Regions from separate parts of the Homo sapiens genome. Here region 1 is linked to region 2. A link means that fine-mapping ties the variant in region 2 to the expression of a gene that starts in the linked region. Tissue or cell type: whole blood. Region 2 holds a variant in brackets; the other region holds the start of a gene. All regions are shown on one strand. Distances are from middle to middle.

Region 1 (5,958 bases), 48 kb before region 2:
GTGCTGGGATTACAGGCGTGAGCCACCGCGCTCGGCCACAACCATTTTTAAATGCAAGGAACACAAACAGGCTGATTGAAACCTGATCTCCTGCCGTCGGGGAGCTGGGAATCCCTCAACCTATTACTTCCTTCCATCTCCTCCTGGCTTTTAAATTAAATCTTATTCCACAGCGTCATTCTACACTTTATTTATTTATTTACCCGCTGCCTTGTTCCAGAAAGGATTTAACTCGGCATATTCTATAGTTAGCCACAAGTAGACTCCTTAATTTAAAAAGGAGCGAGAGAGACCGGGGAGAGACAGACCCACTGGCCTACCCAAAGCACATCCACATCTCACTCTATCAGCTCCAAGCTAGTCCAGGCGACCAGCTTTGAGGGCAAAACACCTACCTGCCCCCGAGAGGCACTAGTTAGCATATCCTGGCTTCACAGGCCCCCAGATCACCACCTCCTCGGCTGCTGCCTTTTCTCTTTCAACCACCAAGTAGAAAAATGGCCTAATGGAGTACTTCTTCCTGAAAGCAGGACTTGCCTGTTAGTGGTGCCAAGGCTCCCTAGGTGACCTTAGATTTTGGATTTGTACAGGCCTTGACTTGAAAGGTCTTTTGCGTTTTGTGGCTCCTGTCTTCTCATCTGTGAGATGAGAGCCATGCCCACCTTTAAGTCACACAGATTAATAAGTACATCTACGGAAGCACCTTGGAAAAGATGTACAGGAGGCTGTGACCTCCAAGCTCCAGCCGACTGTTTGAAGCTGGAGCCCGTCACAGCTCAGCCCAATCCACCCACCCCCCAGACTAGGTCAGACCATCAAAAGCAACGGGAGCTTGGCACTGATTATCCAGCTATATTAAAAAAAAAAAAGAAGAAGACGGGGCACGGTGGCTCACGCCTGTAATCCCAGCACTTTGGGAGGCCAAGGCGGGTGGATCACTTGAGGTCAGGAGTTCGAGACCAACCTGGCTAACATGGTGAAACGCTGCCTCCACTAAAAATACTAAAATTAGCTGGGCGTGGTGACAGGCGCCTGTAGTCCCAGCTACTCGGGAGGCTGAGGCAGAAGAATCGCTTGAACTCGGGAGGTGGAGGTTGCAGTGAGCCGAGATCGTGCCATTGCACTCCAGCCTGGGCAACAGAGTGAGACTGTCTCAAAAAAAAAAAAAAAAAAAAGAAGAGGAAGAAGAAGAAAGAAAAAGTGACAGAAAAATTGCTGCAGTAACTCAGCTGGAAACGGGTGGGCAAACCTGGAGAACTAGCTAATGCCTGCCTGGCTATGCCACCCCTCGGATCTCAGTGTGTTTATCCAAGCCCACAGAGAAAGGTGGGGAAGGGGAGCTGGGGAGACAAAGTTCCCCTCAAAGACGGTAGCATCCTTTCCCAGGGAGAGCTCAAGCATAGGGGGGTTGGGCCCCAACGAAGGAGAGAAACCAGGTTCCAGGGTATGTGCATTGGGGCAGAAAAGCGGCAGCAACTGGTGGGCGTGGGGTTATTGAAATATTGGCAGGTTGGGGAGGGGACTGGTGGGACACAAATGGGAAGATGGGGTTGAGAGAGGTCCTGAAAAGGGGTTGAGGGGTTTTCACAGGAAAAAAAGGTTACTGGAGGGGAGGGTCTTCACGGCAAGGAGAGAGGAGCTTGGGTGAGAGGTCTCCATAGGGAAAATAGGAGATGGCTGGGATTTCCCCCGGGGAAAATGGGAAGGGGCTGGATATTGGGGGTCTCCAGAGGGAAAATGGGAGGTGTGAGTATCTCACTACAGGAAAGAGGGAATAAGTGGGCAAAAATGGGTGGGTGGTTGAAGCGGGGGTCTTGCCACAGGGAAACCACGGTGGCTGAAGATCTCCGTGGGTTAAGAAATGGAGGCCGAGAAGGTCTCCCCATGAAAACGGGTACCTAGGAAGAGCTCCAGAGAAAAAAGATGGATGAGGTTCCCCACGCGGGAAATGGGGCTTGGAGGGGGTTAATCTCTATGGGGAGGTCGGGGCGGGCAGTGGGGGAAGAGGCCACTGGGAGGTCCGAGTTAGCTGGCGGGGGGTCTCCACCCGGGAGGTCAAGGCGGGCAGTGGGGGAGGAGGTCACGGGGAGGTCCGTGTTGGCTGGTGGCGGGGGGTCTCCACCGGGAGATCCGGTTGACTGGCGGGCTGGGGGAGATCGGGGTTGGCGGAAGGGGGACGAGGGGTTTCATGGGGGAGATCAAGTTGGCCATGGGAGCGGTTCTCTGAGGGGAGGCCGGGGTCGGCCCGGGGGTGGGGGTCCCCGCACAGGCCCAGCCTCACCGTCCGCCAGGGCTTCACTGCACTCGAAGCTGATCTCGAACCGGAAGGGGCTGTGGAAAGGGCTCGGGTTCTCCAGGACCGCCACGTTCAGCACCGACACCTTGGCCATCGCCTCGCCTCGCCGCGCCGCAGCAGGGGCAGGGGCTGTGGCTGTGGCGGAGGCCGCGCCTGGGTCCGGTGGGGTCAGTGGGGTAGGGCTGACCAGGTCCACTCCCGCCTCTTCTCTCCGAGAACTGAAGTGCGCACCTAGTCCGCGCGCCGCCTTCAAATAGCCGGCCTCCGCCCTCTGGCCAATCACCGCCAACGCTCCCTGGCGGCGCGCGCACCCCCTCAGCCAGTCCTGGAGCGCCGATCGGCGCGCGCCCAGACTCCTCGGACCAATCAGCGGAGCTCCCTCTCCGCAGCGTGTGAGGAGGGCGAAACTATCTCCAAGCTTCTTAGCGTGTCCGCTGGAAACCAATCCCCAGCGTCTCCGACTTGGATGTCAACGGCGGGAATGGACGGAGTCACAGCGCCGGCCTCCTTCTGGCCAATCCTGAGGGTTCCCGCACCGGCGTGGCCCGCCCCTCGCCTCGCTTTTCCGGGAGATGCATCCCGCAGCGCGCAGCGCCGCCACCCGCCGAGCGGTGGCGCGCGGCGCTCGCTAAAGAAGGCGGGAAGGGCGGTGCTCGCACCCGAAGTGATTGGCAGGAGGGAGTGGGGCGGAGATAAAGAGGGTTTTCTGAGAGTTTATTGGCTGGATTGGTAATGGTGGCGGGAGCAGAAGGAGGCTCAGCTGGGGATTCGCTGGAGAGAAGCGGAAGTCGAGCGCCACCGCGGTGTTGGCGAGTGTGAAGAGAGAGGAGGAGCGTTTGCGGCCTCAGCGTCTGTCAACAGGTGAGCGTTTCCTGGAGCTTTTCTGAGTGGCTCCTGACCCTTGAGGTCCAGCGGCGCGGGAGTCCGTTGTGAACGTTGCGAACGTTCGGAGTGGCGGTCACGAGGCGCGCTCAGACCTCGGGAATCCGGCCGGGTTCGGATCCCGCTTTCGCCCCCGAGGGGTTCGGATCCCGCTCTCGCCCCCGAGGGGTTCGGATCCCGCTCTCGCCCCCGAGGGGTTCGGATCCCGCTCTCGCCCCCGAGGGGTTTGGATCCCTCTCTCGCCCCCTTGAGGGCTCTTGGGAGGTTTCAAGCGGACGGTACTGAAAATGGGAGTTCCAGTTCGGGGGCAGACCAGTGTTCAGAGTCCGGGCTCTGCTACTCAGCGCCCGAGGCAGCGCCTCCCCATTCAACGGGGGCCGTGGCAATTCCCTGACATGATTCATGACCACATAATACATCCGGAAACTTCTCTCCACCGCCTCCCGTCTGGGCCGTCGCCCCCGGCCTGGGAGACTCCAGGTCTCAGAGTCTCTGCCCCCACGGGCGATCAGTGCTGCCCAGTGGAAAAATAATGCCAGCCGCGCACCAAAATTAGGTGTAAAATTAACATTTTTTGGAAGCCACTTTTTTTTTTTTGAGATGGAATCTCGCGCTGTCACTCAGGCTGGAGTGCAATGGCGCGATCTCGGCTCACTGCAACCTCTACCTCCCGGGTTCAAGCGATTCTCCTGCCTCAGCCTCCTGAGTAGCTGGGATTACAGGTGCCCACCACCACAACCAGCTAATTTTTTTTCTGTATTTTCAGTAGAGACGGGGTTTCACCATGTTGGCCAGGCTGGTCTCGAACTCCTGACCTCAAGTGATCCGCCCGCCTCGGCCTTCCAGAGTGCTGGGATTACAGGCGTGAGCCACTGTGCCCGGCCATATCTTTTTTTATTATTATTTGTAATTTTAGAGGCTGGTCATGGAGGATTTCTTGAGGCCAGGAGTTCAAGATCAGCCTGGGCAACATAACAAGACCTCATATCTACAAAAAATAAAAGAATAAGCCAGGTGTGGTAGTGCATACCTGTAGTGTCTGCTACTCCTGAAGCTGAGGCAGGAGGATCTCTTGAGCCCAGAATGCTCCAGCCACTGCACTCCAGCCTGAGTGTCAGAGTGAGACCCTGTCTCTAAAAATTAAAATTAAATTTTAAAAAAGAAAGTTCAGTTTAGCTGTCTTGATAGCCGCAGTTGAGTGCTCCTGAGCCCGTGTGACAAGTGGCTCCTGTATTACTGGACAGCGAAGGTCAGAAACACATTTGACCAGGTCACTTCTCCGGATGAGAGCATTGTCTTTGAAACTCTATGCTTTGTCTCCTGTTAACCACCCAGCTCCAACTTCAAACCAGGCTAAGTAACCCTCTTTTTGTTAAAATTCTGACAAGCCACTCCCAGTGCAAAGCCTCTGCCCAGAACCTCTTCTCCTAGGCTCTTGGCATGGCTTATGCCTTCTTGTCATTCAAGTCTCTGTTCAAATGTCCTCTCCCCAGAGAGGCCTTTCTAAGGGTGCTCTGGACAGTGTTCAAACTCACAGGCCGTACGCCTGAACAGCACTGAGCCAAGGCACTAGTATTTCTTACCCAGTCACCTCTGTGGGCTCACTAGGACTCACTCACTGTGCTAGTATGTTTTCCTTTTCCTTTTCTTTTTAAACAATCCAGTTCCTGTGGGATTTTTTTTTTTTAATAGAGGTCTGTTGCCCAGGCTGGAGTGCAAGTGGCATAATCGTGGCTCACTATAACCTGGAACTCTTGGGCTCAAGTGATCCTCCCACCTCAGCCTCCCGAGTGGCTGGGATCACCAGTGCGTGCCACCATGCCTAATTTGTTTTATTTTATTTTATTTTTTTTTTGAGAGGGAGTCTTGCTCTGTCACTCAGGCTGGAATGCAGTGGCGCAATCTCAGCTCACTGCAACCTCCTGCTTCCAGCTTCAAGCGATTCTCCCACCTCAGCCTCCCGAGTAGCTGGGACTACAGGCACACGCTACCTTACCCAGCTAATTTTTGTATTTTTAGTAAAGATGGGGTTTCACTATGTTGGCCAGGCTGGTCTCAAACTCCTGACCTCAGGTGATCCACTCACCTCGGCCGCCCAAAGTGCTGAGATTACAGGCATGAGCCACCGTGCCCTGCCTCTTATACTTTTTAAATTTTTTGTAGAGACAGGGTCTCGCTGTTGCCCAGGCTGGTCTTGAAACTCCTGGCCTCAAGCAGTCCACCTATCTTGTCCTTAAGTGCTGGGATTACAGCGCCTAGCCCATTTTTGGTATCTACATCTCACATTAAGTTAAGAAAAATTCTTTTTAGCTGTTAAAAAATCGAAAGCTTTGTTTTTATTCTTTTGAAATTATTTGGCTTCAAGGAAACTCACATTTATGATTCGCTTGATTTCTTGGCAATCATTGCATACTTAGGGATATTTGTGATTTGAGAAAATCTAATTTCCAAATGTAATTCGATTGCTTATGAATACTAAATTTAATGATTAATGCAGTTGTCATGATGTCACATTTCTAGATGCTTAATTAAACATTTATTCATTCCAACTTTGTAGTTTTCTCTTTGCATTGTGGAACTTTTTTCCCTTTATCCCTGTCCCTGACCTTTTCGTAGCCCCTGAGAAGCTCATGATCCACCAGCATTATTTCCGTGGCGCTAATGAAGAATGTGGCCCTGTCTATGATGCATTCTCCTTACAGCTGGCTGAATGATCTTCACTTGTAAACCAGATCATGTCATTACTCTGCTTAAAACCTTCAGAGGCTTATCCTACTTAG
Region 2 (5,935 bases):
AAGTGACCACCTGCTGTACGAGGTTTCGGGAGGGCACTCGTGCGGGACGGTGACAGAGCTGAGCCTTTCCAGAGATCTGGGTGGGTACCCCAGGGGTATGGCAGGGAGGCCCTTGGGGTTTTTTGGGGTGAGTTGAGTCCCAGCGGGGGGAACATTTCACATGTGTTCCTCCAGCACCATCTGCCTCCTCATCTAATTTTAGCCTTCCCGGGCTTGGGAGGGAGGGCCGGGGGTGGAAGGCTGGCTCAGATGGGTCTGGGGGTGGAGGCAGCCCTCCCGGCCCAGCTGGGGCTATGGGGCAGGACCTGGATGGGCAGAGAACGTAGCAGCAGAGGAGTGAGGTTGCTGGCCAGCGGGGCAGTGCCAAGGCCCTGGGGCCCAGCTGAACCGTGTCCCTTCAACCTTTGGAGCTTTCCAGAGGGCAGGGCCAGAGGGAGCAGAGTCACCCGCCAATGCCCTTCATACAGGGATGTCGGGGTGGGCAGGGGGCACATCCCAGAGTGAGGGGCCGGGCCTACTGGCCTCTTCTCTTGGCCTCTCACCTTATCCCGCCCTTGCCCCCGGCCTGGGCTGGTCACGGGGCCAGTAATCGAGTAATCGGTGAGGGTGGGCGGGCAGGCTTGGGGCACTAATAGTGGCGTGTGCAGGATCCTAGGGCCGGCATAGGGCCGAGCCGGGTAATTAGTTGTTTTTAAATAAACGTCAGCGGGCATGCTTTAATTAAGCCTTCTTCCCAGTGAGAGCCTCGAAGATGTAATCACAGAGAGAGAGAGAGAGAGAGAGAGCGAGAGAGAGACAGAGAGAGGAGCATCGGCTCACCAAGAAGGCCTGTCCTGGTCCCAGGGGCCACAGCGGGATGGCCCCTACCAACCTGGCCCAGCCGACTTGTTGGAGGTAAGAGGATGGTCCAGGGGCCTCTTGGTGGCACTGGGGTGTGTGTTACCCCTGAGTCTTCCACTGGCCTGCTCCAGCTGAGGTCTGGGGCGGGGCAGGGGGCTGTAATTCTTTACTGAGTGATCAGGAGGGTTTTCAACATTTTATCTGCCCCCCCCAGAAGGGTTTGGGAGCCGCGGCCCCTCCCCGGCCCCAGCAGCACCTACCTTGGGTGGCCGAGGTGACCAGGACGGCGGTGACACACAGATTCCAGAGCACTGCGGCTAGGCGGGCCATGGTGGCAGCCGGGTGCGTGTCCGGAGCTCTCAGTGGCCTGTGCGGGGGGCTTTGCCCCACATCACCTGGCAGGCACCACGGCCTGGACCACCAGCCTGGGGGAGGACAGGGAGACTGAGGTGGGGATAGGGCCTCCAGGCCGCTCCCCTCTCCTCCTGCTGGTGGCTGAGTAGCTCTGAGAGGCTGAGGTCCAGCACGTCCCTCGAGCCAGCCCTATCTGTAGGGCCCCCTCCGGGGTCTGCAGCTCACACCACACCCCCCACCCTTACACCCAGCAGCCAGACCCAGCTATCTGGGCACCTCTGGGCAAAGAGACTGCCAACTCTTCCCCACTGGAACCTCCTGGGACAGCTCACGGGGAGATCCCAGGCAGGCCTTGGACCCTCTGGAAGCCTCTTCCCCATGCCCCTGTCCTGACCCTGCCCACTCATCTCCCCTACTCGCATCCTCACCATGAGCAAGGAGGTAATGAGTGTCCTCCCAAGTGAGGGACTCATTGCAACCCAACTTGCAGCCTCCCCGTCTTGGGCAGAAATCCAAGCCCCCGCCCCCAGCCCCCTGCTTCCTGTCTCTCAAGCTCTGGTGGCTAATTAGAATCCAGCTGGCGCCACAGATCGGGAACCAGGGACGCCCGAGTCCCCTCTTTCCTCTCTGGGGGACCTTCAGGGT[A/G]AGCTGGAGACAGGCAGGCGGGGTGGGAGGCGGACACTGCCTCCCCCTCTGGGGGGGCCAGGGGAGATGGGGGAGGGGTGAGAATTGTGTGCTGTCCCCTGCCATCCTCCCCACCTGCTCTGTCCCCAGGCACAGCGGCTCAGTTTTTTTTTTCATTATTATTATTTTTTTAAATTTTAGAAACCAGGTCTCACTCTGTTGCCCAGGCTGGAGTGCAATGATATAATCACAGCTCACTGCAGCCTCAACCTCCCAGACTCAAGGAATCCTCCCACCTCAGCCTCCCAAGTAGCTGAAATCACAGGCTTGCACCACTACCACCAGCTAATTTTTATTTTATTTATTTATTTATTTATTTATTTATTTATTTATTTATTTTTTTTTCTGAGACGGAGTCGTGCTCTGTCCCCCAGGCTGGAGTGCAGTGGCACAGACTCAGCTCACTGCAAGCTCCGCCTCCTGGGTTCACGCCATTCTCCTGCCTCAGCCTCCCGAGTAGCTGGGACTACAGGCACCCACCAACACGCCCGGCTAATTTTTTGTATTTTTAGTCGAGATGGGGTTTCACCGTGTTAGCCAGGATGGTCTCTATCTCCTGACCTCGTGATCCGCCCGTCTCGGCCTCCCAAAGTGCTGGGATTACAGGCGTGAGCCACAGCGCCCAGCACCACCAGCTAATTTTTAAATTTGCTGCAGAGAGGAGGTCTTGCTATGTTGCCCAGACTGATCTCAAACTCCTGGGCTTAAGGGATCTTCCTGCCTGGGCCCCCCAAAACTTTGGGATTACAGGAGTGAGCCACTGTGCCCAGTCCAGGACTCGGTTCTAACTGGTTTCTTCCTGCCTTATGGCTGCTCCTTCTCACCTCTCTCCCCGCCTCAGTCTCCCCAAATCCTCTCAGGCTTGCACGCTCAAATGTCTGTCCTCAGCTCTTTGCTTTATCTACACCCTGGTTCTCCAGGTGTGGTCCCAGCACACTGGCATCAGCCTTGCCAGGAACTTGGTAGAAACACACATTCTCTCTCTCTCTTTCTTTTTTTAAGAGACAGGGTCTTGCTCTGTTGCCCAGGCTGGAGTACAGTGGCACAATGACGGCTCACTGCAACCTCCAGATCCTGGGTTCAAGTGATGCTCCTACTTCAGCCTTTCGAGTAGCTGGGACCACAGGCTCTCGCCACCACGCCCAGCTAATTTTAAAATGTCTTATAGAGACAGGATCTTGCTATGTTGCCCAAGCTGGTCTTGAACTCCTGGCCTCAAATGATCCTCCCACCTCAGTCTCCCAAAGTGCTGGGATTACAGGCGTGAGCCACTGTGCTGGCCAGAAACACACATTCTCTGAGGCAGGCCCTGAAGCGTGGGAACCCCTGCTCTGTCATATCCAGCTGTCATCCCAGCCTGTCCCATCTCAGGCTGTCCTGGGCTCTCAGTACCATCATTGAGCCAGCACTTTCAAATCTCTTATGTCCAGCCTGGAATCTCTCATCAGAGCCCCCACTACCATTTCCCTGCTGAAAACCAAAACCCTTGTAATTGGCCCAGTTAGCTCCCTGACCCCATTTCTGCTCCAGCCACTCCTGCTATTCCTGGACCACAGCAGGCCTTGCCCCAGGGCCTTTGCACCTGTTGCTTCCTCCACCTGTAGCTTCTGCCAACCCACTGTCCACATGGCTGGCTCCTTCAGGCCTCTGCTCAGATAGAACTATTCACCTGGTGTATAGAATGTCCTCTTCATGGGGCAGGGATCATTGAACTGTTTTGCTCATGGTGGCCGTATCCCCAACTTTTATTTACTTTTATTTTTTTAGAGATAGGGTCTTGCTCTGTCACTCAGGCTGGAGTGCAGTGGTGAAATCATGGCTCACTGCAGCCTCCACCTCCCAGGCTCAAGTGATCCTCCCGCCTCGGCCTCCCTAGTAGCTGAGACCACAGGTATGCACCATCACATCCAGCTAATTTATTTTATTTTGCAAAGATGAGGTCTTGCTATGTTGCCCAGGCTGAACATGAACTTCTGGCCTCAAGAGATCCTCCTGCCTCAACATCCCAAAGTGCTGGGATTACTGCGTGAGGCCATCACCACTGTTGTCTTCATATCCTCAACTTTTAGAATAGGCCTGGCACGTGGCAATGAATTAATTATTTGTTGAATGAATCTCAGATCCCAAAGCTGAGACTCTGCCTTGATTCCTCACCTTCCCTGTCATCCCCCTCACGGAAGCCATCAGCAACTCCTGTGGGCTCTGCCTCTGAAGTACCTCGCGACCTGCCCACTTCTGGCTCTAAGCACAGCACCCAGGCCCATGCACCATCCTATGTCACCTGTATGTTGTCCTGGCCTCCTTGCCCGCCTCCCAATCCGCCCTTCACTCAGAGCTAAGGGACCACATGATGATGTTGATCCGAACATTAACTGACCCCCTGGTCTCTGCTGGGGTCTCAGTTCCTCACTAGAGCCCAGAGGCTGTGGGTGAACTGGTGCCACCAAGCTCTCCAAGCCCCATTCTGTCCTCCCTCCTGTTCCTGAAACATTCAACATTCCAGTTCCAGTCCCCAAGCAGGATCCCTGCATGTCGGCTGCGGCTGCTCATTGTTCAGGGCTCAGCCGCAAGGTCACCCCAGCAGAGTGACCTACCCTGACCCCCTGCAAACAAAACAGTCCTCGCCTGCTGCCCTCACCCGCCATCCTTTTCCCTGTTTTTAATTCACAGCTCTCAAGTGAGCACCTGAAATTACCTTTTTATCAACACGAGCTTCTTGAGAGAGGCCCTTACAAATCAGCACACGGCTGGGCACGGTGGCCCGTGCCTGTAATCCCAGCACTTTGGGAAGCCGAGGCGGGTGGATCACCAGAGGTGGGAGTTCGAGACCAGCCTGGCCAACATGGTGAAACCCCATCTCTACTAAAAATACCAAAAAATTAGCCGGGCGTGGTGGCGGGTGCCTGTAATCCCAGCTACTCGGGAGGCTGAGGCACGAGAACTGGTTGAACCTGAGAGGTAGAGGTTGCAGTGAGCTGAGATTGTGCCATTGCACTCCAGCCTGGGCAACAGAGCCAGACTGTCTCAAAAATAAATAAATAAAACAAATCGGCACAGGCCCTCAATAAATAAAGATCCCCACAGGGCAGGACACCTGGTCCAGACCCCAGTCTCCTCACGTGGGAAATGGGAAGATAATATCTGCAAGACAGCCCTGAACACCCCCTCTCCAGCCCTGTAGCTCTCTGCCCGCTTCCCCTCTCATGCCCACTCCCGATACCAGCTCCCTCTCCACTGCCCCAGCTTCTTCAGTAAATCCCCCCCAGCTACCTCCAGCCCCCAACCGCGTCTCCCCCCACATCCCTGACTAGACACGGCCAGTGTCACTTTCAGATGATTTTACAGCGTGTTACCCCGCCGCCGCCACCAGCCCCTATCCGCATCTCCCCCACATCTGTGACTAGACATGGCCGGTGTCACTTTCAAATCATTTTCCAGCATGTTACCTTGGGAATGGGGAGTGGCTTCCTTATTTCAACTTCCTCATTTCTCCCCCAACTGCCCAGCCACAGAAAGGTTCAGGGGAGGCAGTGTCCCCAAGCTGAGGATACTCCCCTCCCAGGGTCTCCAAGCGCTTTCTTTCCCACTGCAACAGGCATCCGAGCAGAGGAACTGGTTAGAGGGAGTAAAAATGGCTGGCTTGGTACGGTGACTCGTGCCTGTGATCCCAGTGCTTTGGGAGGCTAAGGTGGGTGGATCACTTGAGCCCAGGAGTTTGCAAGGCTGCAGTAAGCTATGATCCTGCCACTGCACTCCAGTCTGGGCAACAGAGCAAGACCCTCTCTTAATAAAAATAAATAAATAAATAAATGGCAGGGAAGCCACTCGATGCCAAATTGTGTGGGCAGCGAATCCACATGGGTCTAGATCCCAATTTTGCCTTATACATGCCCTGTGTGACCTTGAGCTGGTCTCCTCACCTCCCTGGCCCTGGTTCCCTCTGCGCTGCTATTCTGCAGGGTTCTGGTAAGGAGAGCAGTACACGTACACGCTGGGCCAATACAGGCCCCATCAGAGGGTGCTGTGCACAGCCTGGTGCCAGTCAGGGCACAAAGAC

What was found. PIP is the estimated chance that this variant, and not a neighbour inherited with it, causes the effect.
Region 1: ADGRL1-AS1 starts here. The variant in region 2 is fine-mapped to the expression of ADGRL1-AS1 in whole blood (TOPMed, PIP above 0.99). The same link has a PIP of 0.9 or more in gastroesophageal junction, lung, subcutaneous fat, sun-exposed skin and tibial nerve.

What each region holds. Positions count from the first base shown.
Region 1 is chr19:14,134,067-14,140,024 of GRCh38, forward strand. ADGRL1-AS1 (ADGRL1 antisense RNA 1) reads left to right here and starts at 3,086. Exons shown (of 3, transcript NR_045214.1): 1 at 3,086-3,157. ASF1B (anti-silencing function 1B histone chaperone) reads right to left here and starts at 2,523. Exons shown (of 4, transcript NM_018154.3): 1 at 2,282-2,523. The coding sequence starts at 2,390. RefSeq lists a silencer at 2,289-2,338 and enhancers at 2,669-2,808, 2,886-3,512, 3,009-3,168.
Region 2 is chr19:14,182,433-14,188,367 of GRCh38, forward strand. It overlaps ADGRL1 (adhesion G protein-coupled receptor L1), which reads right to left. Exons shown (of 23, transcript NM_014921.5): 2 at 1,101-1,265. The coding sequence starts at 1,170. Among named protein-coding and RNA genes, the nearest start is that of ADGRL1, 21 kb to the right of the region's middle. The variant A/G (reference allele first, on the strand shown) is at 1,840.